Linked DNA regions of Homo sapiens: regions 1, 2 and 4 are each linked to region 3. Evidence: fine-mapped expression QTL. A gene starts in region 3. Each other region holds a variant in brackets. All regions are shown on one strand. Distances are from middle to middle. Region 1 overlaps ZDHHC21 (zDHHC palmitoyltransferase 21). Region 2 overlaps ZDHHC21 (zDHHC palmitoyltransferase 21). Region 3 holds the start of ZDHHC21 (zDHHC palmitoyltransferase 21). Region 4 overlaps ZDHHC21 (zDHHC palmitoyltransferase 21).

Region 1 (8,344 bases), 19 kb after region 3:
TCTTGGTAATTATTTTGGCTAATCTTTATGCTTTTCTAAAATCTACATCTTGATGTTATAGTTTTCTGTCATTTTCATGGTGACTTGAATATTCTTCTTGAGGAGAATATATGGTGAAATACAGTTGCCTGAAAAGGCAAAAAATAGTGGTATTCCTTTGGAGTAAGTTGAACATTATAAATATTTACTCAGTCTGGTTTATTAGAGTTAAATTATAATTGTTTTTAAAGTTTGTGCTGTAGTAATTTACATCATTTAGTCACTGTAGTCAACTATAGTTACCAGATAGCAATCTTAAAAAATGTTGAAGTACCAGTATATCCACTAGTTACTTAATCAGAGTTTTGAGTTAAGAGCTCACCATTTAATATACAAATTAGTATGTCAGAATCTCCAGCTAATGAAAGTATTTTATGAATGCTGTCCTTAAGACCGAGTAACAGCATTGTGTTCAGTTTGGTTGTTGCTCAGGATGTGTAATAGTTTCTCTTCAGCCATAAGCCACGCCTGGTAGATATTAATTGAGTGGAGAGATCTTGCACCTCTTCCAGTTATGCATTTGTGGTTTGTCGTCTGATTTGGAGCACTTGGAAGATCACTGTTTTGTGTTCTACGACCCAATTGAGAGGATTATGTGGAGCTAAGTTTTACCAATCAGGTATTAAAAAAAATATATTCAACATCTTATTTGTTTGTTGTTTTATTTTTCTATCCTGTGCTCACTTTTCCTTAGGGATGCTTGCTCTTTTAGAGAGTGTCATCTATGTATGTTTACATCCAGGAAAAATGGACATATTTTAAACTATACTTTTCACTATGTAATTTTTTGTTGCTGTGAGAGATCTCTTCCAGTGATGAAGAAAAATTTGTTCTCTAGTAGAGGAGAATAAAAATAGAGTTCAAAAATTAATATTTGATAATTTTGCCAGTCGTTTTGCTGGCTCATGTACTTTTCTGCTTCTAATGTTAATAAATTTAAGCTACTCTCATATATACTTAGTGAAATTCATGTTCTGTTTTTAGTCCTGAATAGAACTGAAAAATTAAAGAAAGAAAGGTACATAAAATTAATAATATTGAACACGTTGAGAGAGCACTTGTCATTTCTTTTAGCACTTGATAATTGGCAAGACTAAAAAATTAACATTGTCTTGAATGTTTCTCTTTTTAACTGTGTAGATAGCTTACCATTTGTATTTGAGATTCCTTTATTAAAATGATTCTTAGCAAATTAAATAGCATGCTTTATCCTGTCTGACTTTCTTCATTTTAATGATACCAATCTGTCTTTTGATTTTTAAATTAAAAGATAAATAAATGAAACTTTTATTAGTTTAGTGGCCTGGGCACTATTTCTGTTTTAGAATTCATACACAAGTTAGAACATACCGGATTTAAACTATTAAGTGGTATTACATTTGAGTTCTTTTTTTGTTTTGTTTTTTGTTTTTTTTCTGCTGCCCCAATATTTGCAGGAACTAGGGATGAGAAACTGGGGGTATTCCTTTAAAATCAAGTATTCCTTAATCTCTTTTTCTTTGTTTCAGTAGCTTTATAGCTTTGAAGAACATGGGCAAGGCCTCTAAGGGATGGTGCCCTGAGGCTTTTCAATTGATTATGAATTGTTCTTAGAATGAAGTAGACTGGGATATAGGCTGAAAATCTGGGAATCACCCTTGACACTTTCCCCTGTAACCCCTAATATCTAATCAACCAGAAAAACACACTGGTTCGATTCTAGCAGTTGCTCCTTTCTGCAAACCTAATTTTGGCTTTTGCCTTCTCTTAGCCTAATGGACCTCTGTCTTTAATTTTATCATTCACACCAGAGCTTCAGTAATTTATTCACGGTACACATTTCGTCATGTTAATCCCCTGCTTCAATAGCTTTCCATTGCCGAAGAATTCAGTCTTAGCATTCTAACATGGCATCTTTATGTCCTTCATGATATAGGCCCATATTTCTTAGCACTCACTCTCCACAGAAAGCTTTATGATTTGTGATGGCAGGTTGTAATACCTCCCACAATTTCTACTCTTGCTCCTCCTATTCCTTCTGTTTGCAGTATTCTTGTCACTTTTCATTGCTTAGATAACTTTTACTAACCTTCTAAGACTGAATTCAGGTTTCACTTCTTACAGTAAGTCTTACTTGATTCCTCGTTTAACTGGTCCCATCTTCTGTGCCCCTACTAACATTTTGTTTTCAAATCTGGAACTTACCATATTATATTAAATCTTTTTTCTGATTCTTTTTCCCATTAGACTGTTCCTTTAAGCAAAGACCATGTCTTCTTCATCATTGTATCTGCAGTGTCTAGCAAGTGATAGGTGTGTAGTGGAGGCTCAGTGAATATTTGTTGAACTAAGTGAGTTCAACTCATTGTGGTAACATTGAAGTGTTAGTGAAGCTCATGGGTCAGTGCTTCCTAGACACCAGTCAGCTGTTTTCAGACTCTTGCAGAGCATTTTACAACATTTTATTGTTTTTTGAGTTTTATGAAGAATTATGATTCAGTAGATGTAGAATGGGGTCTGGGAATATGTATTTTTAAAAAGCTCCCCAGGTGTTTTTGGTTTTCTTACAGGCTAGAGAACCGTTGTCCTAGTTTATTATTATACCATTGTATTTTACGTAAAAGGTACCCCCTAGACTTTATACAGCAATTTATTATTTCATCCTTGGAAGTTATATCTACCAAAGTATGGATGTATTTTTAGTCACTTTTTTGGTACCATATTTATATAGAAGTATTTTAAGTCCTTAAGTGTCTCATTGAGAGATCTGTTGGCATATTGTTAACACTCAACTAAAAAAAGCCTCATTTAAACAGGAGTCTTCTTCAGTTGATCATAATGAGATTTGTTGGGCTTCATTCTATGAATTTTAGTATTTTTGGCAATTTGTAATTAGTTTTCACTTTTTATTGTCATTTTTCAAAATACTTAAAAAATGTTTTATTGTAGTTTAAAATTAAACTAGAGTGCACAAATCTGAAGTATACAGCTCAGTGAATGTTTACATATGTAGATACACATAAAGTACCACCCAGGTCAAGATATGGAACGTTTCCCAACCCCTCGTTCTCTCATGTTCCTTTTCAGTTAATATACACCCCTGCAACCACAAGGTAACCACTGTTTTGACTTGTGTGACCCATCAGTCTTCTGATTAAAGCTACTAAAAATTTTTGTACATAATCTTTTGGTGGACACGTGTATTCATTTCTTTTGGGTTTACACAGGAAGTTGCTGGGTTAAGGACAAACTTGTGTTTTAAATTCAGTAGATGATTCCAGTTTATACCTGTGATAGCAGTTCATAGTGAAACATTGAAATTATTTGAAGCTTATGATAAAATTTGAATATCCTGAAACTTCTGTTTGTTTTCCCAAGTATTTATTGTAAAAATATATATACAAAGAAATATCAATAAATATATCAACTACAGAAAGAAAATGTCAAATATGCAAAGAAAACTCAATGTCATTTTATAAAAGTTGCCAGAAATACAGGTTTTAGTCAAATTTTTCTATGTAAGTAATTATTTTCTTTGTTCCTTCTCCTTAGGATCATCCTTCCTTGTGGGTTAGCAGGCAGTTATAAGATTGCAAAATGGGTCTCCGGATTCACTTTGTTGTTGACCCACATGGTTGGTGCTGCATGGGTTTGATTGTCTTTGTTTGGTTATACAATATTGTTTTAATTCCCAAAATTGTCCTCTTTCCTCACTATGAAGAAGGACATATTCCAGGCATATTAATAATAAGTAAGTTTCTTGATCTTTATTTTCTTGTATAATTATTTTTCTCATTGTAAACGTTTTTGGGGTGTAGTGCCACTATGATAACTTTCCTTTTAATATATTTAGTATTTTAGCAGTGCTGTCAATATTCAGTTATTTACTAATTTATGAACTTATGGAAATAATGGCCTTTATAGATTTGCAGTTAGATAAAAGTGATATCTCCATTTTTAACTGCAAAGTGCATGAAGACCATTTTGTTAAAAATAGAAAACTGACACAGTAGTGATAACTTGCATGTCTCTCTGTATTTTTATTATTGCTGTTTTGTACCTAATTACAAATGTAGATGTTTTAAGAATAGAGACAGTATACATTACTGAGAAGTGAGAATTTCATAAGAAAAGTATTGATTACGAAGTTGATTATGATAACACTTGGAACTTCTGGATAGTTATTAGTCAATTGGTGATGGCTTGCTTATGATTAAAATAAATTGAAATTATATATTTTACATGTACATGGCATTTACAGTTTTCATGCACATTACCTCATTTTGACCTCACACGAACCATGGGAAATTTTATATATATATGATAAAACTGACCGGTACTATGCAGTCAGTCCTGGATTGAGCACTCAGACTATTCCCTTTACATGTACAGTATGTTTTTTTTTTTTATCGCCCCAACAGAATTTCTCTATTCTTACTAATTTAAAAATGTAGAATTATGGTGGCCAAATCTGTTTTCCCTTACTATTTTTGTTTTCTGGTTATTAATTTTAAAATTAAAAAGTTTCTAAGTCTTAATTATCAAACTAATCATTTTAAGATCCATCAAAAGGGACAGTTGAACATCACTAATTCAGAGTAATATTGAAGATACCCAGTTAGTTAATGAAAAAGTTTAGTTGTAGAATTTAAAATGGTATTTTGATCCTTTCAAATATAGAACATGCAGTAATTAAACGGGAGCCTATTCATTTATGCCATTATTAATAGGAAGTCCCTGTTATTAAGGGATCTGATTTATAAGAACTTTGAGTTACTATCATGTAAAATAATAATTAAAATTAGTAATGATTAAAATTAGGACTATTTAAGATAGTCCTCCTGACAGTGTTATTTGGTGAGTGAAATCAATTATTTATTTTTTAATCTTTTGAAATTTTTTCTCCTGATGGTGTTTGTTAAAATATACATTTTAAACTTTAAATATGATTGTTGATAAAATGTTTTGAAGGGTAAGTGACTAATTTATTTAATTTATTTATTTTAAAGTATTCTATGGCATTTCCATATTCTGTCTGGTTGCCTTAGTGAGGGCCTCCATAACTGATCCAGGAAGACTCCCTGAGAACCCCAAGATCCCACATGGAGGTATGGTACTCTGGATTTATCAGTTTTGCTGATGCCAGAATTACTGTCTTTATTTACATATTTTATTGCCTTTAATATATATTGGTTATAAATGTCATCTAACACCACTTTGATGTCTTTGCTTGTATGTGTCTTTTCCAAACTTCTCTACTTAAAATTGCAACCCTGCTCCCCC[T/G]GCACCCCGGCAGTTTCACCACACCCCATCTCTTGGCTTCTGTATCACATATCATATGATCCTCATGGTAATTGTATGAGGTAGGTAGGCTGGGTGGTCAGGAGCATAGATTGTCCTTCCTGGGTTAAACATCTGGTTGTTGGTGTGCGATCCAGCCCAAAGACCCAGAACCTTGTCTCTGTCATCTTATTACCATGGATCTATGTACAGAGATAATTTTAGCTTTTTATTCACCTTTGTTACGAATCTGGGGAAAACTTAAGTCATAATGTACTTTTTGGTGCTGGTTACCTGATTCTTTTGTAAATATGATTTTAATTTAGTAAAAAAAAATACAAAATTTTAACAGTGAAAGATAATATTGAATGCCTAGAGAGTTGAAACTGTAGAATAGTGACATTTATTCAGGAATGTTTAAAGGTTGAGCAGTTTCATATAACTGAATTCTTCAAAAAAGGGATCTTGAAGTCCTAATACTTTGGTGATTTTAACTATTTTTTTATTGAATTACTCTGAAGTATTTTACATGCGTTTCTGCTTTTTTAAAACACAATGACTTCAGTATATATGTGACCCACTAAATATGAGGCAATTTGAATATAAGGAAATGTTCCATTTTCCCATGAGAAGATTCCCAGAATTTGACTTTATAAACTTTTGAGCATATAGATGAAACAGTCAAATGAAATAGTTACATGTTTGTTTATATTACTTGAATTGTTCATGTGTGTATTTGAAATAAAACAAAATGAACACCTTCAGTTAGAAATATTTTTATCACTTTCATATTTTATGAAATTTTATTCAAGTTCTTAACTATGTTTAAAAATGGTTTATTGAGTATAATTTACATGCCATATAATTTACCCAGTTAGAGTGTACAATTCTATGGGTTTTTGTATGCCCACAGTTGTGTAACCATCACTGCAATCAACTTTAGAACATTTTAATCGAGTTTTTCACTTGAATGTTCGACATGTGGTTTTGTCATTACTAGAGCCATGTTTTTTGACATAGCATTACAGTGGAAATTCTTTCAAGTTAAAAAAAATGCGTCCTGTTTTGATGCAGTCTCTCAAAAATTTACCCCAAGCTCTAAGGATTCCTGTATTCAGTAATCAGGGTCATGTATTCACTCATAGTTTTAGTTTGATCCTCCCTCTTACATTGCTTTTTAAAGGTGATCTGTGAGAGACTTACTGACATTTATTTCCTACATTGACAACTGATTCTTGTTAGGGAATCTCTGTTAGGACCCAAACTTTGTATTGATTTAGGTAATTTCAAGTAATGTTTTTCTTCTCAAAGCATTACATAGTGATTTTAAATGTATTAATTGAGTGAGGGTCCCTTAAAATGAGAGTCTTTTAAAAGACTCATGTAGAAGGTGATTCCTTCCTTTCTGAGGGTCAAACAAACCAAGCATTGCATTATATTCATTCAAGCATTCACAGCATTAGTAAATCTCCAGGTTAAACAAAATGATGTATTTACTCACATTAAACAGCCTCAGTCATGGAGTTTGCCTTTTTTTTGGTTTTGTTTTATATTTTGATTTTTCTCTCCCTTAAAAATGTATCTGTTAGCTTTTAATTTTTTAAAGCTATCATAAATTTTCAGTTGAATTCTTTTTCTCATAGTCTTTTTAAAAACATTATTACTTGGCTAGTACAAAAATCACTAGACATCAGAATGTATCAGTCGCCAAGATCCTTTGTGGACATGAGTAAAGGAAGGAAAGGGAAATGACTAAGAAAGGCTTTAGAGATATGTAGGGTGTGTTAAGATGGATGGATTTTTTTTCTTGCTACACAAGGCAAAAGCACCTTCTAGATGATCAATTAAATTGCTGGATTTTTGACAATAGTGATTTCTCCTCTGTTCCCTAAACATATAGATATGTATGTGTTCATATAGATATGTGAAACTGTGAGTTTTTACAGGTATTTCTCATTTTAGATACTTATGTAATATCTTCATGTTATCAAAGGAATGACTCAAGTTCTTTCTTTAAATCAATTTATGGTCCAGACCATAGATTAGCAAATAAATTCTTCTTTACTATAAAGGCCCGTAGTAAATATTTTCAGCTTTATGGGCCATACAGTCTCTATTACAACTCCTCAGCTCTGCCACTGAAACACAAAAGCAGCCATAGACAATATGTAAATGATGGGTACATCAAACTTTGTTTATGGACCCAGAAATTTGAATTTTATGATTTTACATGTCACAAATTGTTATTTTCAATAATTTAAAATTGTAAAAATTATTCTTAGCTCATAGGTCATACAGAAACAGGTGGTAGACTGGATTTGCCTGCAGACTGTAGTTTGTATCTGTGGTCTAGATTACAAAATTGTAGGCTTTCTCTAACTATTGCCAAGTGCTCTCTTCTGAGAATACATTTTAGATATAAAATGAAGAATTTATTCTCTAGGATATTATATGCTGATTTCTCAGAAATTACCAATAATGAATACACCGTGTTTATGTTTTAAGTGGCTGATAAAAACAAATTTTTATATCGCCTTTTAGTGAAAATTGGCTCGTTGTGGAGCGCCTCCTTCCTGTCTATATTCCTTGCAATGTGTGAATTCAAAGTTTTTTTGTTTGTTTGTTTTGTTTTTTTTTGTTTATTTGTTTTTTTATTATACTTTAAGTTTTAGGGTACATGTGCACATTGTGCAGGTTAGTTACATATGTATACATGTGCCATGCTGGTGCACTGCACCCACTAACTCGTCATCTAGCATTAGGTATATCTCCCAATGCTATCCCTCCCCCCTCCCCCCACCCCACCACAGTCCCTAGAGTGTGATATTCCCCTTCCTGTGTCCATGTGATCTCATTGTTCAATTCCCACCTATGAGTGAGAATATGGAGTGTTTGGTTTTTTGTTCTTGCGATAGTTTACTGAGAATGATGATTTCCAATTTCATCCACGTCCCTACAAAGGACATGAACTCATCATTTTTTATGGCTGCATAGTATTCCATGGTGTATATGTGCCACATTTTCTTAATCCAGTCTATCATTGTTG
Region 2 (8,344 bases), 75 kb after region 3:
CCAGTGCAAAAACTTGATGACATGTTTGGTTGCTAAAATACAAATTGTACTTATAACAGTATTCTGGATAACAGAGTTACAGACAGATGAGCATTTGCCATTTCTAGAGGAAAAAAAATAGCCTATTTGGGCCAGCCTCACAAATCCTACTCATAAAGTAATGGTAAGCATCACATTGTTTGAAAGAATAACCATGCTTATGATGATTTAATAGATAGTATTTTAGTTATTTCCCAAAACAGATTCAAGAAAGGTATCAAAAACACTTGAAAATAAAAGCTTTTTCTGTATGAAATCTAAATCTGAAATCTTTAAAGTTGATTTTTTTAATGCCACAAATAAATCCTTCAGGATTATAAACAAGTTGTAATTTCTCCATAGTAAAAATTGCCCTTAATCTTAGCTGGTGAGAGTAGTCTGACCTTTCATTTGCCTTATATACCATGGAATAGTTTATAGTTTTTAAGTGTTGTCCACATCTGTGATCTTAGGCCATTCATATACCTTTCCTAATAGCTATTCTATTTCAGCTTTCTCGTTGACTTCTATCTCATCTTTTTCTTCGTACTTTTGTGTAAGTTGTTTTAATTGCTTTGGAACAATGTGTTACTATCAAAACTCTAAGAAACCATTAAAATGACTTACTTCCTTTACAGATGTGGAACCTGAAGCCCAAATTTCCTCTAAGACCCTAATCAGTGTTCTCATATGTTTGTAGACTGTGTTTTCATAAAGTAAGACATTTTGAGGAAATTGCAACGGAGCAGAGAAAGGTTAATTATTAATACAATTGTCACTGGATACCATTAATTACACAGCTTGATAGGAAAACTAATGAATATAGAATATGTAGCTAATCTATAACTTTTTAAAAATTCCTGGAAAATGTGTAAATGAAACTATGTTGTTGGTTATTAGTTATCTTAAAAATAGATCCATTTTCTCTGATTTTCTCTTACATAGGCTAACTGTAGTTATGCAACTATTCTTAATGAGAATTTAATATTATGAGCTATTAACATCTCTAAAGAGTTGTTTTTGAGTGAAGGTGCTGTTTATTAGCATCATTGGAAAAGTTTTGCAGCCAAATAAGTTCTTGGGATTTTACCTGTAGCTGCAAGAGTTTGCATGAATAGTACTGCTTAAATAAGTCCACCTATGTATAAACAAAGTGTTAAGGTAAAGTAAGGGATAAAAAGAGGAAAACTTCTCCAGCTTTTGGTGTATTTGAATGAATGTACTCTTTTGCACTGTTTCAAAATATATTTAAAATACAAATAAATATCTAAAAATAAGATTGTGTAATTTGTGTTTTGATTATTTGGCTATTGCTTATAACAATTTGCCAGTCTAATGATAAGTCTTCTGATAACAGAAACCAGCATTTCTGGAAGCAATCTTCTGTTTGTTGAAATTTTTTTTTTTACATATTTGTGTTAGAGCCTTACAGAAAGCATACAATTAGGGAATTGTATTATCAAAAAAGTTATTTTTTCCGCTAAGAAAGAACTCTGGTCAGTTTAGTTTTCAGAATAATAGATGTTGTAATATGGCAAATTCATAGATTGCCTTGTTGAGTTTTGTTGTTGTTTACAGAAACCCAGAACCAGTAGCACCCTGACTCTTAGGCAGTTTTCTGTTCATTAGTTTCTTTCATATGTCATTTTAGTATTTATTTTTTAATGCATATTCACTGACAGTTAAATTGAAAGTAGATTGTAGACTTTCAAAGGAATTGTCAAGAAAGCAAGTGTAATAAAAGGTTATATTTTAATGAAGTGATACTGTCATAATTTTTGTGAGGTTTTAGTATTTGAATAGGTTTTTTTTTGCATAGTATAATGTTGATTTTGTTTTTCCAAGGGGATTCCAGCAATGTATGAAAGATAATTTAAAATTCATAATACTCATATATAAACTGTTTAAATCTATAGAATATTTTTGGAATAAGATTAAAAACATGATAGAGTGGATACAGAATAAAGACTTAATAACTTTCTTACATCTGAATATAATTTTTTATTTTTAATAGGATACAACATCTATTGAAAAGATGTCAAACTGTTGTGAAGATATGTAAGTATAAAACTGAAGTGTATAGTATTATTTAAAATTGGAAAGAACTGGACATACTTGAGAAATATGTGCATATGGTAGATAGATAATATAATGATGGCTTTTTCTTGGTGCATTGTCTGAGGCCTGTGCTAGGCAAGCTACCCCAGTCTTACAGTAGGGGTTTTCCAGCCATGGTAGTTTTCACACTAAAATGCTGATCATTCTTGTGCCTTGTCTAACTAAAGTAAGTTAAATTATTTGTCCTGAAAGTACATCAAAAGAGATTTGCTACTGTGTTGTTGACACACATTCTGTTAATCCTGAGATTTTCCTCTGCTTCAAAAGTTGCGCTCGGTTGATTGACGACACAGATACAATATCTGCTATCCAGAGTTAAAACTCAGCTGCATGCCATAATGAAAGAAAAGCTGTATTTATGATGCTGGGACACAATTCATCAGAGTCCAGTAATGGATCCCCAGCCAATCTGTATTGTTTTAGCTGACTGAAGTGCACCATGGGAGTGCTGTCTTTCACTAATAATGCTGTCTTCTGTAGATCGAGGCCCCGAAAGCCATGGCAGCAGACCTTCTCAGAAGTTTTTGGCACTCGTTGGAAGATCCTGTGGTTCATTCCTTTCAGGCAGAGGCAACCACTGCGAGTTCCCTACCACTTTGCCAATCATGTCTAAACAGATGGATGGTGGGCACAGATGGGTCCTCCATGCTGGCAATGCGTTACAGGTTTTATGATAATAGAACTATGACAGTCTTCAAGTCAATTAAAATCCACCCACCAGTCTTAGGCATCATAATGTGCCCCAGGCTTTATTTTAATAGTGATCTTGATCCTGTTGTGGGACTAATACAAGATCTATATTTAAGTTTTAAAGCATGTTTACTTTCAAATTAGCTTTCCACAGGGATTTCTTGAAATGCTTTTGTTATTAAACTCAAAAGGCAGTGATTAGGATGAAATAATTGTACATAATTTATTTTAGTACTGACAGTGTTACAGATTCTAATTTATGGTAAATTTCAGATGTTTATTTAAAATTTTCACTTTTAAACAGTAACCAAATCTAAATTTAATTATTCAGGTTTTACAAAAGTTGATACACCTTCTTATAGTATAGGTAAATTTTCTTTTTCAAATCCAATTTAAAATAACCTTTCCTTTTAAATGTGCTGCAACGTTTTTAAAAATGCAGCAGCATAGGAGTGAACAACAGCAACACAAAACGGGCATTGGTTTCTTAGGAGTGGCTTGCTTACGTTTTCTTCTTTTTTCTTCACCAAAACCAACATGAAAGTACCACTGAAGTAAAACACCAACTACCTACCTTACTATAAAGGAAATGTTAAAATTTTTTTCACAATAATTTTTTCAATTTTCACTATTACTGTTGTAATTATTGATTGTGATTAAAATATTTGCTCCCAGGAGAACTCCTGACCAGTGGGCATGTATTCCTATTTTATCCTAAGATTTTAATGAGCAAAAAGGGGAGAGAATTTGCAATAACTTCACAATTACCTTTTCTAGTGCAGTTATATTAGAATGCATATGTTTTTAAAATGCTAGTATAACTAGATAGTATATAATGTACAGTATAAAGAGGAATATTGTGCTTTTGAAAAGAGTATACTTTTTACTTTTATTTATGTACTAGTAGATGTAAAATTTCACATTGAAGGTTTATATATATTGGCCAACTCATATAGAAATTTTATTTATAGGAAGCTACTACTAAAAAAAGTCACTAACTTTGTGTACCTATAATCCCTAAATTAAAATTAAATTTTAATTGGCTGGCTGTAATTTGCATTGAGAGACCTTTTACTAGTAGCTAGTGTTAGGAAGTGAACCTAAAATAAGAAAATATAATGATCTGTGTTTATCATTAGCCTTGTACAAATGTAAATTACTAATAGTGATGTTCTTTTGCAAGGCATAGAACATTTGTATGAAAAGACATTTAGTATGCTTTGAAAAAAACTCAGCTTTTAGTTTTTTTCCATTAGAATACTGCAAAACCCATATATCTTTTTAAAAAATTTATGTACTCACAGTCTTTCCCTTGAAGAGAAGATTGAAAAAGTCTACTGTTCATAAACCATGCTAACATTTTCCTTTTAGCTAGTTTTGAAAGTAAGGAACAATACCTGGGAAATAATTAAACAGAAGGTTACCATTGTCAGCCAGTTGGCTATACTGTGGTTAGTTCTTTCAGAAATTGTAAATATCTTGTAGCATATTCTGAAATAATAGAGTAAGTTCTTCTCAGAGATGTTAATATCATGTTTTTCATGTTCTAATTAGAATACTTTATTACTTACAAACTCAGAAATACGAACAGAAATACAGCAGACGAACATATTTATTGGTACTGAAAAGAGACGTAGTAAATTAAATAGAAGAAATATATTTATAAAGCTTAGTGAAACACAAAATTAGAATGTTCATGTCAGGCACAAGGGTTTGGATTTTGTGCAAGCTAATTTGGCCACATTTGGCCTGGTGACAGAACTGTTCATAAGGAAGTAATATATAGATAAGGTAGGTAGATATCAGTTGAATGCCTTATATTGTATACATTCCTTTCAAATAAAGACCTTGAGAAAACAGCAGAGCCAAGTGAAGATCACCTAAAGAACTTTGTGGCTAATTTATACTTCATGTAGTAGCAGTGGGTACTGGGCAGGGTCTCTTTCCCACTCTGATGATTTGTGCTCTTATTTTTCCTAGATTTACCTCATCTAGGGCATATTCTTTTCCCTCTTCCTCTTTACCTTTCCTGGTCCTGATCCCTCTGTACTCAGTTCCCCTAAATTATTGGACTACAAACTAATATACTAGAAAAGCATACACTTATTTTATTTGAATGCAGAAATGCT[A/G]TCTATCAGTATATATACATAAGAATGTATATTACAGTATATCTATATATACTTAACACTGTAACTTTCAGTATTCCCCAGTTAGCGTACCTAACTCTCCTGTGGGTTTTGTTAATTCTTATTAGACTACTAGAGAAAAACCAACTGGCAGTTTGCTAAGCATATCTACTGGTGTTGTTTCTGCGCCCTCTTTTGGCTAATTGATGTAATTATACTGGCTCTAAAGATTTACTGCCCCATAAGTAAATAGTATAGCCACATTCTGAACATATCAAAAGTACAAACTTAGGAGGAGTGTATGTACAAAAATGTAAAATTTTATGAAAATGAACATGTTTTTATGATGTTATTTCTAGTTCATAAGAATGTGATGACTGCTTTGCTTCATTTATGTACGTTCCCATTATATTCTTGCTGTCAATCAATCACAAATTTATATCAGATTAGGATAAACTAAGCCATTTTATGTATTTTATTTTAAACCTTATTTTGGCAGAGTAATTCCTTAGAATTGGAAAAGCTGTTACTTTGAAATTACCAATTTATTACAAAACATAGAAATGTATTGTAGCTACAAAGACAACCAAGCATTTTCTGTGTTTTAATGAATATCTAAAAAACTACATTTAGTTTATTTTACTCAGTTTTGAAATGATTTTTTTACTGGCTCTATTGCCTTAAAATAACTAAGAGATTAATGATTCTTTGTATAATTTTCCTTTTCTTTGTTCTTTTTTTTACATTTCGCAGAGTTATATCTATAGTTTTAGTAACAATTTCTTATGTATTCTGGATAACTGAAAACAACTAAAGGTGTTGGGCATTAGAAAATAATTGTGAGCAGTAAGATTACTGATGTAATATGTATGTTGGACTGAAGTATTTCTTTATAAACATTCTATTTGATTTTAAGCAAAATGTATGTTAAAGCATGTTTTTACATCAGTAAAGTCATTTGTCGACCTTCTGGAAATGAAAGGTTTTTACCTAGATACTGTAAGTTACACCTCCTTAACAATCATATTTGTCATTGTTGTTTTCTGCAAACAAAAATGTTTATGGGCTTCATGTAGGCTTAAGATTGTAGGCAAAAATGGACTGAGTTCAGGACCCTTCAAGCAGTAGGCATTCAGTTACAGAGCAGTTGGTACTTTGTAACCCAGACTTACAGTTTAAAAATATCAAGTTAGCTGATGTTTCATTATAATAAAAATACTATTTTGCTTAAGAGTTGTATTACAAATATTTGTGCTTAACATTAGAAATAGCTGTTTTAAATTGTAGTTAACATATTAACTTTTTCAGAAAAAAAGCATGGTTTATTTTTAATAATGAAATAGAGAACATAATACGTAATGTTCAGTATAACAGCTGAGTTAAAACATCTGCCAGGATTAACATCAGTGCGTTTTTGCCAATGCATAGAGGCATTTTTCTCTAAGTATGATGGCTAATGATAACTATTCTTTGTTACACATTCAAGTCACTCCCATACAAGTAACTAGTGGGTGATATGTTTCACTCCAAAGGGTGTATTAATTCTGAATGCTAATCATGAAGACTTAAGTTAGGACAACACTTCAAACCAGGAAGTGTGAACTGATTTAGATTATAGCTACACAATTTTCTGTGTGTTAGATCATGGGGTAGTTTGAGTGTTTTCACATGTATTGCTATAAAATCACAATGTACCAAGCTCTGGTTTAATATGCCATTAATACTAATTAATAGAGCTGCTAGTCTCTCTCTGGACTTTTCTCTAGTCTCTGCTTCTCTTGCGCTTCCTGTATCAATAGATTACTTAGCTCAAGTTTACCAAGTTTAATAACCTATAGTTACTTTATTGAATAAGTTTCTGACATGACCTCTAATATACATAGATATATCTAGAATTTATTTGATAAAATTCACACATACAAACATTGAGTAGTTTGCTAATAGATACAAATATTAGATTTTCACACAACTCTACTACTGCTTTAAAAATATAAGTATTGGTAAGTGTAGCAAATAAGCCATGTACATTTAATGTGTTCTACTTGCTAGTATTAACTGTATGATTAATGAATGTGTTATTTAATGCCCAAGTTTGTTAACTTTTATTCTAGAAATCATCCTCTGAATTTATTATAAATCACAGATTTCATTGTGCTCTATATTTAGTCATTCTCAGTTGAATTCTAGAATATTCCACAGTACAGTATAAGAAAGTATTAGAACCAACTTGCTTGAACTATTTTGAACCAGTGTTGTAATTCTATATGTTAATCAGTATTTAGCATTTCTGCTCCTTTTGAGATGATGATGGTTTAACTTCAGGAAAGTGACTTTTCTGACTTCTTTTATTATCATTGTGCAATTTTTAGCAACAAAACTCACTATATCTTTGTCAGTTCTTCAGATGTTACAATACTGCCTGCTAATTTGAAACAGAAATAACAATGGTATTTTAAAAAGTCATTGATATTACTGATACTTTCCATTATCATTATATTTTTTACTATTATTATGTTCTTTTTGCCTTGTCCACCCTAGAGAATAGGTACAAATGAGTAGTGAGTATCCACAAACTTACTAAGATGGAGAGAAGGCTAGATGGTGCATGAATAATCAGCATCTCAGCAACAGAGTTGACTGGAGCCAGTTTCTGACATCAGAGAATCTCTTTGCTGTAATCATTTTAGCCTTATCTCTTATTTATACCATTTTTATGGGAAGAGTTGTTAGTGCATATAAGCATTTAGTTTGAATTATTTAACTTAAAGAATTTATATTGCGGTTTCTCTTCAGTTGGTCAGATGCCTTTTATAAATATTTTAGTTTTAAATATAATTGTGTAGAGTATGATCATGTGAAGTGTTAAAAATAATGTGGAAAACTCAGCTATTTAATGCAGAGGAGAAATGAATAGGTTGACCAAAGTTTGAAAAAACTGGCACCTTTTCTGGAAATCTCTTATTGCAAAGAAAAGATACTGAGTGTATAGAAAATTTTGTCACCAGAGGAAAAATAAACAATATATAAGGGTGGCTTTCACTTTAACATTTGGGATATTTTGGAGTTCTTGATACCTCGAAGGTCTCCATTTCTATTGGTATTTTGAATATCTGTAACATGTAATGTCGTTCTTATAACAGTTCAACACTGATTTTTTTGGTATCGATAGCTTTATATATAAACAAAGATGCGGACAAAATAGCTTAACAGAAGTTGTGGGCTTTTTTGTGGCTTTGCCTGCCTGTTTGACCAAATACAGGGTTTAATTGTTTGCAGGCTGTTAACTAAAGGGAAAGCTTACCTGCGTATTGCAAGCTATATATTCTTGCCAGTATACATTGGATGATATTTTAACCTACTGGTGCCTGAAGTTCGTGTTTTATAACCTCAAC
Region 3 (8,344 bases):
GATTTAATTGAATAGAAACTTCTAGAGCCACCATCAAACAATCCAAAGTTGAGGTAAAGCAATGTGGCCTAACAGGTTCCAATGTAGTATACTTAGAACCTTTCCAGATGCCCCACTACTCTGCCTTTTGATAATACCACTGCCCTCACTAATAGTCTTTTCCAGCTTGGAGCAGGTCATCACCTTTTGCCAAAAGCCTAAGGACTCTTCATTGGGAATAGCATTGTTTCTGAGGCTCACCATGCTTGGAATCTGTTCCACATTTCCAGCCCTCTCTCTTTCCATGTATCCTACCTTTGAGCCACACCAGAGGGATTCTTGCACTTTCATTTCTCTATGTTTTTGCTTACACTTTCCTCTGTCCTGAAATTTCTTTCCCTCCTTTCCCCCAATCAAAATCCTATTCTCACTTGCCTGATACAGGAACCATTCTCCAAGAAGCCACCCTTGAACTATCCCATGGAAATTACTAGTTTCTTCATTAGCACTTCCATAAAACTTTCCTTGTAACTCTGTTTAGCACTGCTATTGTTTTTTTCTCCTAAGCACACAGTCGTTTTTGTTTGTTTGTTTTGCAGTTTTCCTTGATATTTGGGGAAAAATGTTTATTTTACCTACTCTCTACATTCTAGGGATATTTCTTAGCCTGAAGTTCCTGGCTTCGCTGTGATCCTTTGGAGGCATAGGAAGGTGGGGCAACTTGTGAAACTTCATATATATAAATTTCATATATATAAATATATATGTTCCTGTATGTGTGTGTGTATATATGTGTGTGTGTGTGTGTGTGTGTGTGTATTTGTGTATATGTGTACTTTGCTGGGGTCCACAACTTTCATCAGATACTCAAAGAGATGTGTAACCCAAAAGAGAAGAGGTTAAGAACAACTTTTAGAATATTAGATTGTTATGGCACAGGCACTCTGCCACTCAAACAGATGGGAGAGACAACTATAGGCAACCAAGAAATCATGAATGTGCATCAAATATGGGTGCTTAAGGCATGGTACCCAGCTGGGCAGGTGGAGAATGCCATCCATCCAAAGCTGCCAAGGGCTATTAGCCAGTACTGATTAAACTCTGGACTGCACTGATTTTTGGAAATTGCACTAAAATCCAGATCCTCCCTAGTCACGGCACAGAAGCACAGGAGTTGGCTGTGTTTACCCTCATAAATGCCCTGAGTGTGCCTTTGTTAGAAGCTTGGTTGGCAGTGGCAGCAATGCTACTTGTCCTTGTCTACTTTTTCTACTTCCAGATAAATATTAGTTTGATTAATAATCACATTTCAGTTTGTCCCAGGCCCCATGAAGTAGATTAGAATTCTGGAGGGAAAAAATATGGTACGATCTATATCGTCTTTCCATAATATACCCAGTAAATAGAAAATCTTTTCAAAAGATTACCTGATGCCACATCTCCCTCACCCCCTTATTGTTACCCAGGTGCCTGAATGTATGGGTTGCAATACAATATAACCAATGATTAGCATGAATGATAGAACCAGATGACTTGACCTTCAGTGTAAGGGATAGGCAGGCCTTTGATTATACTCATGAAATGCCCATGCTAAAAAGGTTCATGTTTTTAAGGATGTTTCTCCTGCCTCTTCTCTCCTATTCCCTTGCTTAAAAATTCTCTGTGGAATTGATTTGGCTGATAAAAGACAGGCTAACTTATTTTAAAAAGGGACTGAAAAATCCATGCACTTCCAATTGTCATGTGCAATCATGGACCTGTCAACTAATTCTTATTTTGGCAGTTTTGAGATCACTTGTCACAAATTATTCCCTCTCACAGGGGTATCTGAAGAGAAAGCAAAATAATATGCAATTCATGTAGCTGGATTCAGGTGGAGGGGATTCTACTTTTAATATGCAATTGGGTAGCTGGATTTGGGTGGGGGGGGGATTTTACATTTAATATGCAATTCTGGTAGCTGGATTCGGGTAGGGAGGAGTCCACATTTAATATGCAATCAGGTAGCTGGATTTGGGTAGAAGGGATTCACATTGAATACGCAATCAGGTAGCTGGATTCCGGTGGGAGGATTCCACATTTCCTCTTCCTTCAAAGTGATTGTTTATATGAAATATCTCCTTCTTTTCAAACAGAGAAAGTTACAAAAATCCTACTACATCAAATGATTTATGAAAAATAAAGGTAATTCTATCAAAAGCAATCGTGACTAGTCTTTCAACCTCGCTATGCATATATCGGGGAGTGTATTTGTTAACCTGAAAGGCAATAAAATCTGCTTATGGGTAAATCAATTCCTACCACTGGGTTCTTTTGGGAATATCTAGTAATCTAGGTCAGTAATTCTAAAACTTGAGTGTGTATTAGGATCACCTAAAAGGCTTGTTACATCACGGATTGCTGGGCTACACCTAAACAGTTTCTACTACAGTAGATCTGGGATGGGGCAAAAGAATATGGATTTCTCACAAGTTGACAGGTGATACCGATGCTGCTGGTCTAGGGATCCCACTTTGATAACCACTGACCAAAGTTTTTAAGGTCACAAGGTGTTTATAATTAGTTCAGAAACCAGGACACAACATGTTTAAAAATCCTTAGCAATACAAGGTAATATGAGGCCCCAAACAGGCAACAATGTGCACTATATAAGGGCAGTGGTGAGAGAACTCTGGTTTGGCAAGATTTCCACTCTCAAATCTGGATAGGGTTAAGATCATCAGAGAGCAGGGCATTCTAGAATGGGGAAATGAACCAAATTAGTTGGAGCTAAGACTGGAGAGGTAGGTAGGGATGTGTCTGTGGAGGGCTTTTAAGCACATCTTATAAGGAATACAGATTTTATACAACAGGTAATATTTCTTCCACCAACACACTGTCTCCTCCTGTGGCACGTGGGCAGAAAGATCTAGCTCCACATTACTGCAAACGGTTTAACCTTCCCCAAATACTGTTCAGCCGGAGTGAGGTGGGAAAGTTAGTAGATCTCTGGTGTTTGGTGAAGATACCAAGTTAGACTGAGAGGTGGATTACTTGCATCGCTGAGTCCAAAAGTTGTCGGCTTTTGCAGGGATGGGAAAGCAGGAAACTTTTGGAGGTCTCCCAAAATATAAGAAAAGATTGTTTGGGTGTGGATTTAGGTTGAGGACAGGAACAGGAAATATCCTGGGATGTCTGAGGCAACCCAATAGAGGGTCTGAAGTGGACGAGACCATGCACTACAGTGCAATGCTTTTCCATCTTTACGGTGCACCCCAGGAGTCACCTGGTGATCTTGCTGAAGTGCATGTACTGATTCAGCAGGCCTGAAATTGTGCATTTCAAAGATTGTGAGTTCCCAGAGGATGCTGATGCTGCAGACCGCGCTTTGAAGCAAGGTACCATGGGACATCCCAGAACACCTGCGGGGAGAGAGGCCTGCTGGCCACATCCCCCGAAGAAAGGATACATGCAATCTTTTAAGCTAAGGCCCCCATCCTGTCTCTCGGGAGAGGTGAGCAGTGAGGATATGGGGACAATGAGAAGGACGGCTCAAGTAGGGCTGGGGAGGGGCAGAGGCGCCCAGGCGCGCCAGGTGCAAGCGCTCTGGAGAGTGCGGTCTGCCTGGGTCCGCGGCTCTGGGGCTGCGGCGCGATTGCAGGAGTTTCGGCCCTCAGCGGCTCCCATCGCGGCTCCCGGGAGCTAAGCGAGACGGCGACGGCGGCAGTCGTCCCTCCCCACGCGGGCGCGCGGGCATGCGGACACCCACTCGGCCGGTCCAGGCCCTCAGGCTCCCGGAAGCGGAAGGGGAGAGCGGCCCGGCCTGGGCGGCGGCGCCGGAGGAGGCGGAGGTGGCGCGGCAGGAGGAGGGGAAAGAGCTGCTGGCGGTCGGGAGAGCGGCGGCAGCGAGAGGCGAGCCAGCGGCGACGGTGAGTGTGCAGGCGCGGGGGCGAAGCGGCCGCCCCCACCCCCATCCCCATCCGCACCCCCACCCCCATCCCCGGCCCCCGCTCCGCTCTGCCGGGCCCGCCCGCCGCTCCTCCGCGCCGGGACGCCCTCACCTGTTCCTGCACGCCCCCTGCACCTGCTCTGTTTGGAACCCGGGGGTTTCTCGGTGCCTCCCCGCCCCAGGCCTGGCCTTTTTCAGAGCGTCTTCTGCTAGAGCTACAGCCCCTTGCTAAGTGCTCCTCCCTCAACTGGGGGTGGGGGGTTCCTGCTCTAGTCGAGACGATGTTGGCTAGTTATTTATTTATTTATTTTAAATCTGTATCCTGAGTTTCTCGCTTGTAAACTACAGTTTCTCTCCCCGCACCCCCGTCTGGAGACCTGCACTGGGATCCCGGGTTTCTCTGTGCTATTCCAGAGCTTTTCATTCATTCCAGACTTCTGGTGTGAAGCTGCAGAGAGGACAAACAGTTTGCTCCTTTATTGACCTTCTCACTCCTCTCCTCTTGATCCAAAGAGGTTTTCGGAAAATGGCTTATGGATGGCAGCAGTTTGCACTTGTTACTGTTCACTGTAACAGGTCGCTGGATTGTAACTGCAGAGTCCATTTAAGTTACGGTCTTTTTCAAGCTATATGTGGGTCACATTTTAAGATCCCTTGAGAGTCAGGGTGGATGTCTGTATCACCAGGGCTGAGAGGACATGACCAATTATTACTTTAAAATATTGCAATATAGCAGTCTCTAAAAGTAGAAGAGAAAAAAAAATCAAGGTCATTGTGGGCGGGTCATAAATTATATTGTAAAGTTACAGTCCAAAGGCGACTAAGGATAATTAAGTGCAATTTAAAAAGATGTGTTAAATAGGTCCTCAGCCTACTATGCTAATATATGCACTTTTAAAAATTCACTGCTTTCCTTGTGGTAAGAATAATATTAATAACAGTCACCATTTGATGACTGCTTAGTATGCGCCATTCCTGGATTAAAAGGCTTTTGGTGTAATATTAAATTCTTCCAACTCTTTAGATTTTACTTATTTTAAAGGTAAAATTCGGAGAGATGCTCTGTTTTTCCTTAGTTTGTGCCATCTCTTAAAAGCAAAAAGATATTTGAAGAATTGAGGTGAGAAATCCACTGGAAAGAAAGAGCCAAATGAGATTTGGTGTCGTGGAAAGAAAAACTAGATTCTAGTCCCATTTCTGTCACTATCCAGCTGTGGGTTTACAGGTAGGGCAATGACCCATGTTATTTTCTCTATACCATCAGAGAGCCAGACTAAATTATTTAAGGCTTATTTTAGCTTTTCCATGCTTACTTGGAAAATGTTTTTAAATAAGACCCTTTAACGTGGTTTGAAGGTACATTAAAAACATATACGAAGTATTAGTAAAATATGAAAATATAAGTTAAAATGTATAATTCCATAATTGTTTTGGTGTAGTACTCTTCCAGAATTCATCATTTTCGATGGAAACAATTCTATTAGATCCTTTGACACTACTGAGATTTCTGTTAACATACTTGAGAAGCTGTAGTTGGAATAAATGAAATAGAGCGTCATTTAAAGAAAATGATGAGGACCGTGTCACTTTTGCCTACGAGGTACTTTGTTTAATAAGAGAAATCTAAGCATTTAAAAATGCAGACATATAATCAGCTTAACAGGAAGTTCTGAGACAAGAATCAATGAATCATAACATGTACTTCTTATTTGCCTACTGCCTCATTTCTTTAATTCGTAATGACCGATTCAGAACCTGTGGAAAAATGCATGAATAAAATAATGGTTTTATAAAATGTGACCCACATATAGCTTGAAAAAGACCGTAACTCAAATGGTCTCTGCAGTTACAATCCAGGGACCTGTTATAGTGAATAGTAACAAGTGCAAACTGCTGCCATCCATAAGCCATTTTCCCGAAAACCTCTTTGGGTTGAGAGGAGAGGAGTGAGAAGGTCAATAAAGGAGCAGTTTATTGTTTGTCCTCCTGCTAGTCTTATTATATAGTGGTTTAGTAAAGAAACTGCTTGAGAAGTTGAGTAATGTCTCAACATGGAGCTGTTTTTCTGGAATTGTAATTGAATGTGACTCAGTGAAAACTTTTTTAGCATAGGAGGTGACACAGTGGCAGTATCAATACTACCAGGCAAAAGAGGGAAGGCAGAGGAAAGGCTGTTTTTATTGCCAAGAGTTTGTTCCCTAAATTCAGTTTTACTTTTATATTAAGGAATGTAACCTTTTATGTTGTTTTAGTAAAACATTAGGGCTCAGATTCAACTTTTCACATGCATTAAATATAATAGGCAATTTAGCATCTAGTAGAATAATCAGTGCTTAAATAACTCTTATTAAAGGTAAAAATACAGGTGAAATTGTAAAACAGTTTTTATTGTTGAAAGTGATTTGTTAAGAATTCTTGATAAGTCAAGTCAGACTAGTTTAAAAAGCACATTTTCATAGACATGTGAATCATCACTGTGCTCATTGATAGGTCCCTGAACAAAAATACCTTAGTATGATGGTACTTTATGTGTTTGTTTTGCTCTTTAGACCTAACCTAGGCAAAATTGTGACATTTTTGAAGTTTGCCTTCTGCCTTTCAAGCTGCTTTTTCCTCTGTGCTATTTCTCTCAGGGTAGATTAACCTTCTTCCCCATTTCAGAGACTCTCTTAACCGATGTGTTGCCCCTTCTACAAAAGGGCAGGTTGGGTAAAATTGATATTTTACCATTCACTGGTGAATTTTATTTTAAATCTAACCTAAAATGCTCAAGTGTGATGTCAACCAAGCTTCTGATTTTAAGCTTTTTATCTGTAATTACAGAATGAAGAACTTTTTCACTTACTGCAGGATTTTCAGCTTCAGCAAGCAGGTGAGGAGAGATTTTTCTTATGGTGTTAGTGTTCTTAAATCATGGCTGCTTTGGTAAAGCCTGGTGTGAAGGAAATCTAATTTAGTCTTCTACCCCCAACCCCCCACCAATCTCTCTTGGTGTGGTGGGTACTAGAAGGTAAGTAGCAGGCTTCCCTTCCTTCTTGGAAGAACATACTTGATTCATACCCAGGAAAAGCCTGGGCCTCTTCATTTCTGGCTTTTACTGTATCTGAAGGTTTTTTCCTTGTGCTGATTTTGGAACAAAAGTTACCTTTTTAAATCCCTGTCCCTATCCTACATTTAATCTTGCCTTTTCAGTCCCTTTTCCCACTCCTATCTCCCTAATGAAAATTCCCACAGAGACCTTTTGTACTGACTGAAACAATATTTGGTGGTCTTTAATTCGTATCACCCCACACCTCCCAAGCTATTTTTACTTTTTGTTAGAAGATTCTAATGAAGTGAGCTTGAGCCAGGGAGAATGGAGACTGAGGCTGCAGTGGGCTGTGATTGCAGCACTCCAGCCTGGACAACATAGTGAGACCCTGTCTCAGACAAACATACCCAAAAAACAGTGGCCCAGTTATCTACTTTCTCTAAAGTTAAAGCAAGTTAATGCAAGCAGGGAAAAATAAAGGTAAATGCCTGTATTAGCAGTACTAATACTACTAGTAGTAATACTACTAGGATAGTGTTAGCAGTATTAATACTGCAGTGTAGTACTACTAATACAGTCATGTACATTTATTTTTCACTCATGAGACTGGTGCACACAAAAACAAATTTATGAGAAGAGCAACAGCTTATGCTCAATTTTGCCCAGAATGTAATTTAAAGACTTAGTCTACAGAGTGGATTCTTGAAACCATTGATAGTGCAAGTATTTTATGCTTTGACACTTTGTCCACCCACGTTTTTACAAAGTCTTCCTGGAAAACTCAGCAATTGATTCAGAATCCCTGCTTGCATTATACATTCTTTATTAGCTTCTGAGATCAAGTACTGATTTTCTTTCACACTTTATTCCTTTGCTCACCAGTCCTGCTTTTACTTGAATGTGATTTAGTTTAGGGGCTTCAGTTCATTCATTCTATTTTAGATCAAATCTCTATTTTCGGTTTTCTTCTTAAAGATCCCCCTAACCAACGTGTAGAAATACAACTTCAGCTAGTATGATACTAGCCGAAGGGCTGTAATATTTGAAGTTTTTTTGACTAGTTCACAGACTTTAAAAAAGTAGATAACGGGGCATTTTTTGTTGTTCTTGTGTTTGTTTTGTTTTTTGTTTGAGACAGGATCTCACTCTGTTGACCAGGCTGGAGTGCAGTGCAGTCACAGCTCACTGCAGCCTTGGTCTCCATCTCCCTGGCTTAAGCGATCCTCCCACTTCAGCCTCCCAATAAGCTGGGACTACAGGCATGTGCCACCACACCCGGCTGGTTTTCTGTTTGTTCGTTTTTTGTTGTTGTTTTTGAGACAGAGTCTCGCTCTGTCACCCAGGCTGGAGTGCAGTGGGGTGATCTCGGCTCACTGCAACCTCCGCCTCCCGGGTTCAAGCAATTC
Region 4 (8,344 bases), 28 kb after region 3:
GCACCATTTATTAAATAGGGAATCCTTTCCCCATTGCTTGTTTTTCTCAGGTTTGTCAAAGATCAGATAGTTGTAGTTATGCGGCATTATTTCTGAGGGCTCTGTTCTGTTCCATTGGTCTATATCTCTGTTTTGGTACCAGTACCATGCTGTTTTGGTTACTGTAGCCTTGTTGTATAGTTTGAAGTCAGGTCGTGTGATTCCTCCAGCTTTGTTCTTTTGGCTTAGGATTGACTTGGCAATGCGGGCTCTTTTTTGGTTCCATATGAACTTTAAAGTAGTTCTTTCCAATTCTGTGAAGAAAGTCATTGGTAGCTTGATGGGGATGGCATTGAATCTGTAAATTACCTTGGGCAGTATGGCCATTTTCACGATATTGATTCTTCCTACCCATGAGCATGGAATGTTCTTCCATTTGTTTGTATCCTCTTTTATTTCCTTGAGCAGTGGTTTGTAGTTCTCCTTGAAGAGGTCCTTCACATCCCTTGTAAGTTGGATTCCTAGGTATTTTATTCTCTTTGAGGCAATTGTGAATGGGAGTTCACTCATGATTTGGCTCTCTGTTTGTCTGTTGTTGATGTATAAGAATGCTTGTGATTTTTGTACATTGATTTTGTATCCTGAGACTTTGCTGAAGTTGCTTATCAGCTTAAGGAGATTTTGGGCTGAGACAGTGGGGTTTTCTAGATAAACAATCATGTCATCTGCAAAGAGGGACAATTTGACTTCCTCTTTTCCTAATTGAATACCCTTTATTTCCTTCTCCTGCCTAATTGCCCTGGCCAGAACTTCCAACACTATGTTGAATAGGAGTGGTGAGAGAGGGCATCCCTGTCTTGTGCCAGTTTTCAAAGGGAATGCTTCCAGTTTTTGCCCATTCAGTATGATATTGGCTGTGGGTTTGTCATAGATAGCTCTTATTATTTTGAAATACGTCCCATCAATACCTAATTTATTGAGAGTTTTTAGCATGAAGGGTTGTTGAATTTTGTCAAAGGCCTTTTCTGCATCTATTGAGATAATCATGTGGTTTTTGTCTTTGGTTCTGTTTATATGCTGGATTACATTTATTGATTTGCATATATTGAACCAGCCTTGCATCCCAGGGATGAAGCCCACTTGATCATGGTGGATAAGCTTTTTGATGTGCTGCTGGATTCGGTTTGCCAGTATTTTATTGAGGATTTTTGCATCAATGTTCATCAAGGATATTGGTCTAAAATTCTCTTTTTTGGTTGTGTCTCTGCCCGGCTTTGGTATCAGAATGATGCTGGCCTCATAAAATGAGTTAGGGAGGATTCCCTCTTTTTCTATTGATTGGAATAGTTTCAGAAGGAAGGGTATCAGTTCCTCCTTGTACCTCTGGTAGAATTTGGCTGTGAATCCATCTGGTCCTGGACTCTTTTTGGTTGGTAAACTATTGATTATTGCCACAATTTCAGCTCCTGTTATTCGTCTATTCAGAGATTCAACTTCTTCCTGGTTTAGTCTTGGGAGAGTGTATGTGTCGAGGAATTTATCCATTTCTTCTAGATTTTCTAGTTTATTTGAGTAGAGGTGTTTGTAGTATTCTCTGATGGTAGTTGGTATTTCTGTGGGATCAGTGGTGATATCCCCTTTATCATTTTTTATTGCATCTATTTGATTCTTCTCTCTTTTTTTCTTTATTAGTCTTGCTAGCGGTCTATCAATTTTGTTGATCCTTTCAAAAAACCAGCTCCTGGATTCATTGATTTTTTGAAGGGTTTTTTGTGTCTCTATTTCCTTCAGTTCTGCTCTGATTTTAGTTATTTCTTGCCTTCTGCTAGCTTTTGAATGTGTTTGCTCTTGCTTTTCTAGTTCTTTTAATTGTGATGTTAGGGTGTCAATTTTGGATCTTTCCTGCTTTCTCTTGTGGGCATTTAGTGCTATAAATTTCCCTCTACACACTGCTTTGAATGCGTCCCAGAGATTCTGGTATGTTGTGTCTTTGTTCTTGTTGGTTTCAAAGAACATCTTTATTTCTGCCTTCATTTCGTTATGTACCCAGTAGTCATTCAGGAGCAGGTTGTTCAGTTTCCATGTAGTTGAGCGGCTTTGAGTGGGATTCTTAATCCTGAGTTCTAGTTTGATTGCACTGTGGTCTGAGAGACAGTTTGTTATAATTTCTGTTCTTTTACATTTGCTGAGGAGAGCTTTACTTCCTACTATGTGGTCAATTTTGGAATAGGTGTGGTGTGGTGCTGAAAAAAATGTATATTCTGTTGATTTGGGGTGGAGAGTTCTGTAGATGTCTATTAGGTCTGCCTGGTGCAGAGCTGAGTTCAATTCCTGGGTATCCTTGTTGACTTTCTGTCTCGTTGATCTGTCTAATGTTGACAGTGGGGTGTTAAAGTCTCCCATTATTAATGTGTGGGAGTCTAAGTCTCTTTGTAGGTCACTCAGGACTTGATTTATGAATCTGGGTGCTCCTGTATTGGGTGCATATATATTTAGGATAGTTAGCTCTTCTTGTTGAATTGATCCCTTTACCATTATGTAATGGCCTTCTTTGTCTCTTTTGATCTTTGTTGGTTTAAAGTCTGTTTTATCAGAGACTAGGATTGCAACCCCTGCCTTTTTTTGTTTTCCATTTGCTTGGTAGATCTTCCTCCATCCTTTTATTTTGAGCCTATGTGTGTCTCTGCACGTGAGATGGGTTTCCTGAATACAGCACAGTGATGGGTCTTGACTCTTTATCCAATTTGCCAGTCTGTGTCTTTTAATTGGAGAATTTAGTCCATTTATATTTAAAGTTAATATTGTTATGTGTGAATTTGATCCTGTCATTATGATGATAGCTGGTGATTTTGCTCGTTAGTTGATGCAGTTTCTTCCTAGTCTCGATGGTCTTTACATTTTGGCATGATTTTGCAGCGGCTGGTACCCGTTGTTCCTTTCCATGTTTAGCGCTTCCTTCAGGAGCTCTTTTAGGGCAGGCCTGGTGGTGACAAAATTGGTCAGCATTTGCTTGTCTGTAAAGGATTTTATTTCTCCTTCACTTATGAAGCTTAGTTTGGCTGGATATGAAATTCTGGGTTGAAAATTCTTTTCTTTAAGAATGTTGAATATTGGCCCCCACTCTCTTCTGGCTTGTAGGGTTTCTGCCGAGAGATCCGCTGTTAGTCTGATGGGCTTCCCTTTGAGGGTAACC[C/T]GACCTTTCTCTCTGGCTGCCCTTAACATTTTTTCCTTCATTTCAACTTTGGTGAATCTGACAATTATGTGTCTTGGAGTTTTTCTTCTTGGGGAGTATCTTTGTGGCGTTCTCTGTATTTCCTGAATCTGAACGTTGGCCTGCCTTGCTAGATTGGGGAAGTTCTCCTGGATAATATCCTGCAGAGTGTTTTCCAACTTGGTTCCATTCTCCCCATCACTTTCAGGTACACCAATCAGACGTAGATTTGGTCTTTTCACATAATCCCATATTTCTTGGAGGCTTTGCTCATTTCTTTTTATTCTTTTTTCTCTAAACTTCCCTTCTCGCTTCATTTCATTCATTTCATCTTCCATTGCTGATACCCTTTCTTCCAGTTGATCGCATCGGCTCCTGAGGCTTCTGCATTCTTCACGTAGTTCTCGAGCCTTGGTTTTCAGCTCCATCAGCTCCTTTAAGCATTTCTCTGTATTGGTTATTCTAGTTATACATTCTTCTAAATTTTTTTCAAAGTTTTCAACTTCTTTGCCTTTGGTTTGAATGTCCTTCCGTAGCTCAGAGTAATTTGATCGTCTGAAGCCTTCTTCTCTCAGCTCGTCAAAGTCATTCTCCATCCAGCTTTGTTCTGTTGCTGGTGAGGAACTGCGTTCCTTTGGAGGAGGAGAGACGCTCTGCATTTTAGAGTTTCCAGTTTTTCTGTTCTGTTTTTTCCCCATCTTTGTGATTTTATCTACTTTTGGTCTTTGATGATGGTGATGTACAGATGGGTTTTCGGTGTGGATGTCCTTTCTGTTTGTTAGTTTTCCTTCTAACAGACAGGACCCTCAGCTGCAGGTCTGTTGGAATACCCTGCTGTGTGAGATGTCAGTGTGCCCCTGCTGGGGGGTGCCTCCCAGTTAGGCTGCTTGGGGGTCAGGGACCCACTTGAGGAGGCAGTCTGCCAGTTCTCAGATCTCCAGCTGCGTGCAGGGAGAACCACTGCTCTCTTCAAAGCTATCAGGGACATTTAAGTCTGTGGAGGTTACTGCTGTCTTTTTGTTTGTCTGTGCCCTGCCCCCAGAGGTGGAGCCTACAGAGGCAGGCAGGCCTCCTTGAGCTGTGGTGGGCTCCAGCCAGTTCGAGCTTCCCGGCTGCTTTGTCTACCTAAGCAAGCCTGGGCAATGGCGGGCGCCCCTCCCCCAGCCTGGCTGCCGCCTTGCAGTTTGATCTCAGACTGCTGTGCTAGCAATCAGCGAGACTCCGTGGGCATAGGACCCTCCGAGCCAGGTGTGGGATATAGTCTCGTGGTGCGCCGTTTCTTAAGCCGGTCTGAAAAGCGCAGTATTAGGGTGGGAGTGACCCGATTTTCCAGGTGCGTCCGTCACCCCTTTCTTTGACTCGGAAAGGGAACTCCCTGACCCCTTGCGCTTCCCGAGTGAGGCAATGCCTCGCCCTGCTTCGGCTCGCGCACGGTGCGCGCACCCGCTGGCCTGCGCCCACTGTCTGGCACTCCCTAGTGAGATGAACCCGGTACCTCAGATGGAAATGCAGAAATCACCCGTCTTCTGCGTCGCTCACGCTGGGAGCTGTAGACCGGAGCTGTTCCTATTCGGCCATCTTGGCTCCTCCCCCCGAATTCAAAGTTTTAACACTGGGATGTTTGGGAGCATTGAGCTAAGTAGGGGAGTGGAATATGATATGCTTGTGACATTGTAATATGCTATAGATTAAATGAGTTTTTATTTCACTTAGAGGTAAATAGTACTAGTTTAACTATGTAAATTAAGCTTTAGTACTGTTGCTCTTGCATGATTTATTTTCATTAAAATAACTGTAAGAGATGAAAAAGTATTTTCTTTTAAAATAAGATTTCAAGTATAAGAGATAATTTCTCAACTTTCATATTATTGGAACAATTAATTTGATGTAGGTTTTATTCATACTTTGTTTCTTCAGAGATGTCTGTAGTGGGAGTATTTTCCCAACGCTTTACTATATAAAAGTCCAGCATGTTGATGTTGCTCCTGACCATTCAACTAAAGTAATGGAATTCAAACAGAGAATCTTAAAAAAGAAGAAAAAAAAGAGAAAAAAAAGAAATAAAAATATCAATATTGGTAAAAAAAAAAAAAAATCTGTAATCTGAAAAAAAAAAGAAAATTGAATATTGTCTACTATTATCTTTCACTTTTATTTAGAATCTTTCATTTTTTGATTTTAGACTTTTCATATGTCAGCAAGCATTTAGTGACTACCTAGTATGTGCTAGGGTCCTACTCTTCATGTACTAAAATTCAATCTGAATATAGGAGTTAGGCTAATCTTACTATGTCCATACTTTTAATGAGGTTATGGGATAGTATAAACACAGATGATGAAAATTAAAAGAATTTTGTAAAAGAAAAATTCCATTCCAATATATTTAAAAGATACATTTTTGTATAATAAGGCAATTGTCTTTTCTAGGAAGATGACTCTTCCATAGTTTTCGCGGACCTAATTAGGACAGTTTTTAATGAAAACAAAAGCCTTTTCTCTTATGCAAACTTTGTGTTTTTGGCACAGAGCTTAATCGTGTGCTGTTTCACTCCAGATTAGAGGAAATTGCTAGTTGGTGGTAGTTCAGTGTTTTATGAAGAACTCCTTTATTTTCATTAAAAATAGTAGTTGTCTTATAACATTTTTCACTACTGAAACTATTCTGATACCTCCCAAACCCATATGACATCCTTCTCTAACCTGTCCCATACACACTCTTAAATGAATCTACTGATGTTTTTTAAAATTAAATGATTTAGGGAAAGTGTATGTGGAGGGAAATGCCATCTGTTTTTCGGATGAGTTTATAGGGTTGATTTCAGTTTACTAATCAATTGAAACCAGGGTCAGCATTATTTCTTCTTTAGAGCCTTTAGAAAATGAAATTTCTAGAAATCAATTTGTTTAAATAAAATTGTTTTAGTATAATAATTTGGTTGGGCTCTAGGGTTTTGTCATTGGATTTTACTTATATTCTCACAGTATACCCAGAATCCAAATACATTGTTTTCTGTCTCTTACTTTGACTATAACAATAGTGTCTTATTTTTTTAGTCTTTTAAATTAGAAACACACAAAATAAGACATATGTAGAATAGAACAGCAGCATTTATGGCAAACACATTTATACCAAAGGCTTAGAAGAAAAATCTCTTAGAGTTTTATGTTGAAGGCTTCCTATAAAATCTTCTAAACAACTGTTGGTAAATTTCAGCATTACCCACTTGCCTTCATTAAATGGATTTTAATTTCTTTTCTTTAGAAAGGGAGTTCTGGGAATTATGTAACAAGTGTAATTTGATGAGACCAAAGCGTTCCCATCACTGTAGCCGCTGCGGCCACTGTGTGAGGAGAATGGATCATCACTGTCCATGGTAAGAATAATTCACTTCTAGCAAAGAAAAGAGGGGTGGGTAATAAAATGTAAATCTTACAACTTGGCAGCTTTAAACAACAGTTATGTTAAAGTTATATAGTTTTACAATATCTTAATAAGGATATCTTTATTTAGATTATATGGTTCTGTCAACTCCCAAAGTCATTTTTCCACAGAAATCCTATCTTTTCTAACAGGGAGAGATTTGAGCCAAAAAAGTAAGAATTAACTGCAGCCTGATATACAAAAGGATTAAGGTGGTTGTATTAAATGAGGCAATGTATATAAAACATTTACTACAATATCTGACAAGTAGGATGTACTTAAATGGTAGCTATTTCTAATTGTAATAAACCATATGCATCCGAATGTTTATATCCCCTTTTCATTTGTTTAATTAATAACATTTCAGACACCCTGATAACCTCTTCCTTACCCCTTAAAGCTTTTTAAGCATTATGTATTGGATATAGCTACTACCATTATGTACTTGTTGGAAGTATGTGAGTGATAATTAGCTGATTCTGCAGAACTGCTAACAGTTTTGGTCAATAGGGGGCTCTCTTGTAATATTTAAAGAAAATGTTCAGTTGAGAAATATAATCTTCGAAAACAAATGCTGCGTGAATTCTGTATTGTATCTCATTTTAAAGCTGTCACAAAAATCTGTGAACAAGATATTGTATTTAATTCTGTTTTCTTAGCATTGGCTCTCTGTATAAATATTTAAACTGGTATAGTGTAGAATTTGACAAATGTATCTGTATACATATATGTAGTATTTATGTTTGTATACACATACATGCATATATGCAAATTTACATAATGAGCCTCTTAATTTATAATTGCTTTTATTTAAAATTGATGCAAGTGGAGTTTAGCTTTTTCTAATGTTAGTCTATTTAGAGTTTTCTTTATTTTTGATAACTTATTTTGATAGCACAGTTATTCAGCAAACTTCTGGTGGAAATTTGTTTTTTTGCATAGACTGTTTAAAAAGAAGATAATTTCCTGAAATAGGAAAAAGTAAGAGCATTTTCGATAAAAGCATTTTGTTACTACATAAAAATTTTAAAAATTTCTAAATCTGTCAACAAGATAGAGTAGTGTATGACATATAGTTGATATTCAAAACTGTGCCTTGAATTTAAACGTAAATAATTATTTGGGAATTACTTGGGAATAAAGATTAATTCCCAAGTAATTTTCTTAAGCTCAGTGATCTGTTTGCTCTCACAATAGTAATAGATTTTTAGAAAGCTACGTGAAACATGTATTCAGATAATTGCTGATCATACAGAAAAGCTCAGTTTTTAAGCGCTTCTTATTGTAGAGTTTCTTATTCACTAAAATACAAATGTTCATGATGGAAGTGGATATTGATGCTTTTTTTTTCAAACGAATGCAGTAGTAAGAAAGAACTAGGAAAGACTCACTTATTGGTGACCAAATAAGGTGCTATTTAACCTTAATTCTAACGTTGGGGTGATTTCTCTTTCTGGGCCTCTTGCTTCCATAGTTTTAGTCAACTTTTCAGAAGTTGGTAGCAGTGAGGGGGAAGTACAAAGGATTGGAGGATCAGAAAGGAGAGTAGACAAGGGACCTAAAGAGATTCAGGAATTTTTATCATTGAATTTCCTGATAGAGCACTGCTGAAATGTTCAGAGAGCAGGGGAAATGTACAGTGTAAATTGGAAGCAAGGAAAATTTTTGATGTTTTCAGAAATTGCACTACTTAACTGCCTAAGACATTTTTAGGTTTGGAGGTCAATTCTCAC

The links. PIP is the estimated chance that this variant, and not a neighbour inherited with it, causes the effect.
Region 1: its variant is fine-mapped to the expression of ZDHHC21 in thyroid (GTEx, PIP above 0.99). The same link has a PIP of 0.9 or more in adrenal gland and lung.
Region 2: its variant is fine-mapped to the expression of ZDHHC21 in whole blood (INTERVAL, PIP above 0.99).
Region 4: its variant is fine-mapped to the expression of ZDHHC21 in esophagus muscle (GTEx, PIP above 0.99). The same link has a PIP of 0.9 or more in gastroesophageal junction, sigmoid colon, thyroid, tibial nerve and transverse colon.

Annotation. Positions count from the first base shown.
Region 1 is chr9:14,669,612-14,677,955 of GRCh38, reverse strand. ZDHHC21 (zDHHC palmitoyltransferase 21) reads left to right here. Exons shown (of 10, transcript NM_178566.6): 4 at 3,571-3,769; 5 at 5,028-5,126. The coding sequence starts at 3,616. Among named protein-coding and RNA genes, the nearest start is that of ZDHHC21, 20 kb to the left of the region's middle. The variant T/G (reference allele first, on the strand shown) is at 5,302.
Region 2 is chr9:14,613,371-14,621,714 of GRCh38, reverse strand. ZDHHC21 (zDHHC palmitoyltransferase 21) reads left to right here. Exons shown (of 10, transcript NM_178566.6): 9 at 2,033-2,076; 10 at 2,617-8,344. The coding sequence ends at 2,749. Among named protein-coding and RNA genes, the nearest start is that of ZDHHC21, 76 kb to the left of the region's middle. The variant A/G (reference allele first, on the strand shown) is at 4,956.
Region 3 is chr9:14,688,772-14,697,115 of GRCh38, reverse strand. It overlaps ZDHHC21 (zDHHC palmitoyltransferase 21), which reads left to right and starts at 3,684. Exons shown (of 10, transcript NM_178566.6): 1 at 3,684-3,887; 2 at 6,731-6,779. RefSeq lists an enhancer at 3,179-3,679 and silencers at 3,753-3,822, 3,903-4,042.
Region 4 is chr9:14,660,435-14,668,778 of GRCh38, reverse strand. ZDHHC21 (zDHHC palmitoyltransferase 21) reads left to right here. Exons shown (of 10, transcript NM_178566.6): 6 at 6,453-6,564. Among named protein-coding and RNA genes, the nearest start is that of ZDHHC21, 29 kb to the left of the region's middle. The variant C/T (reference allele first, on the strand shown) is at 3,173.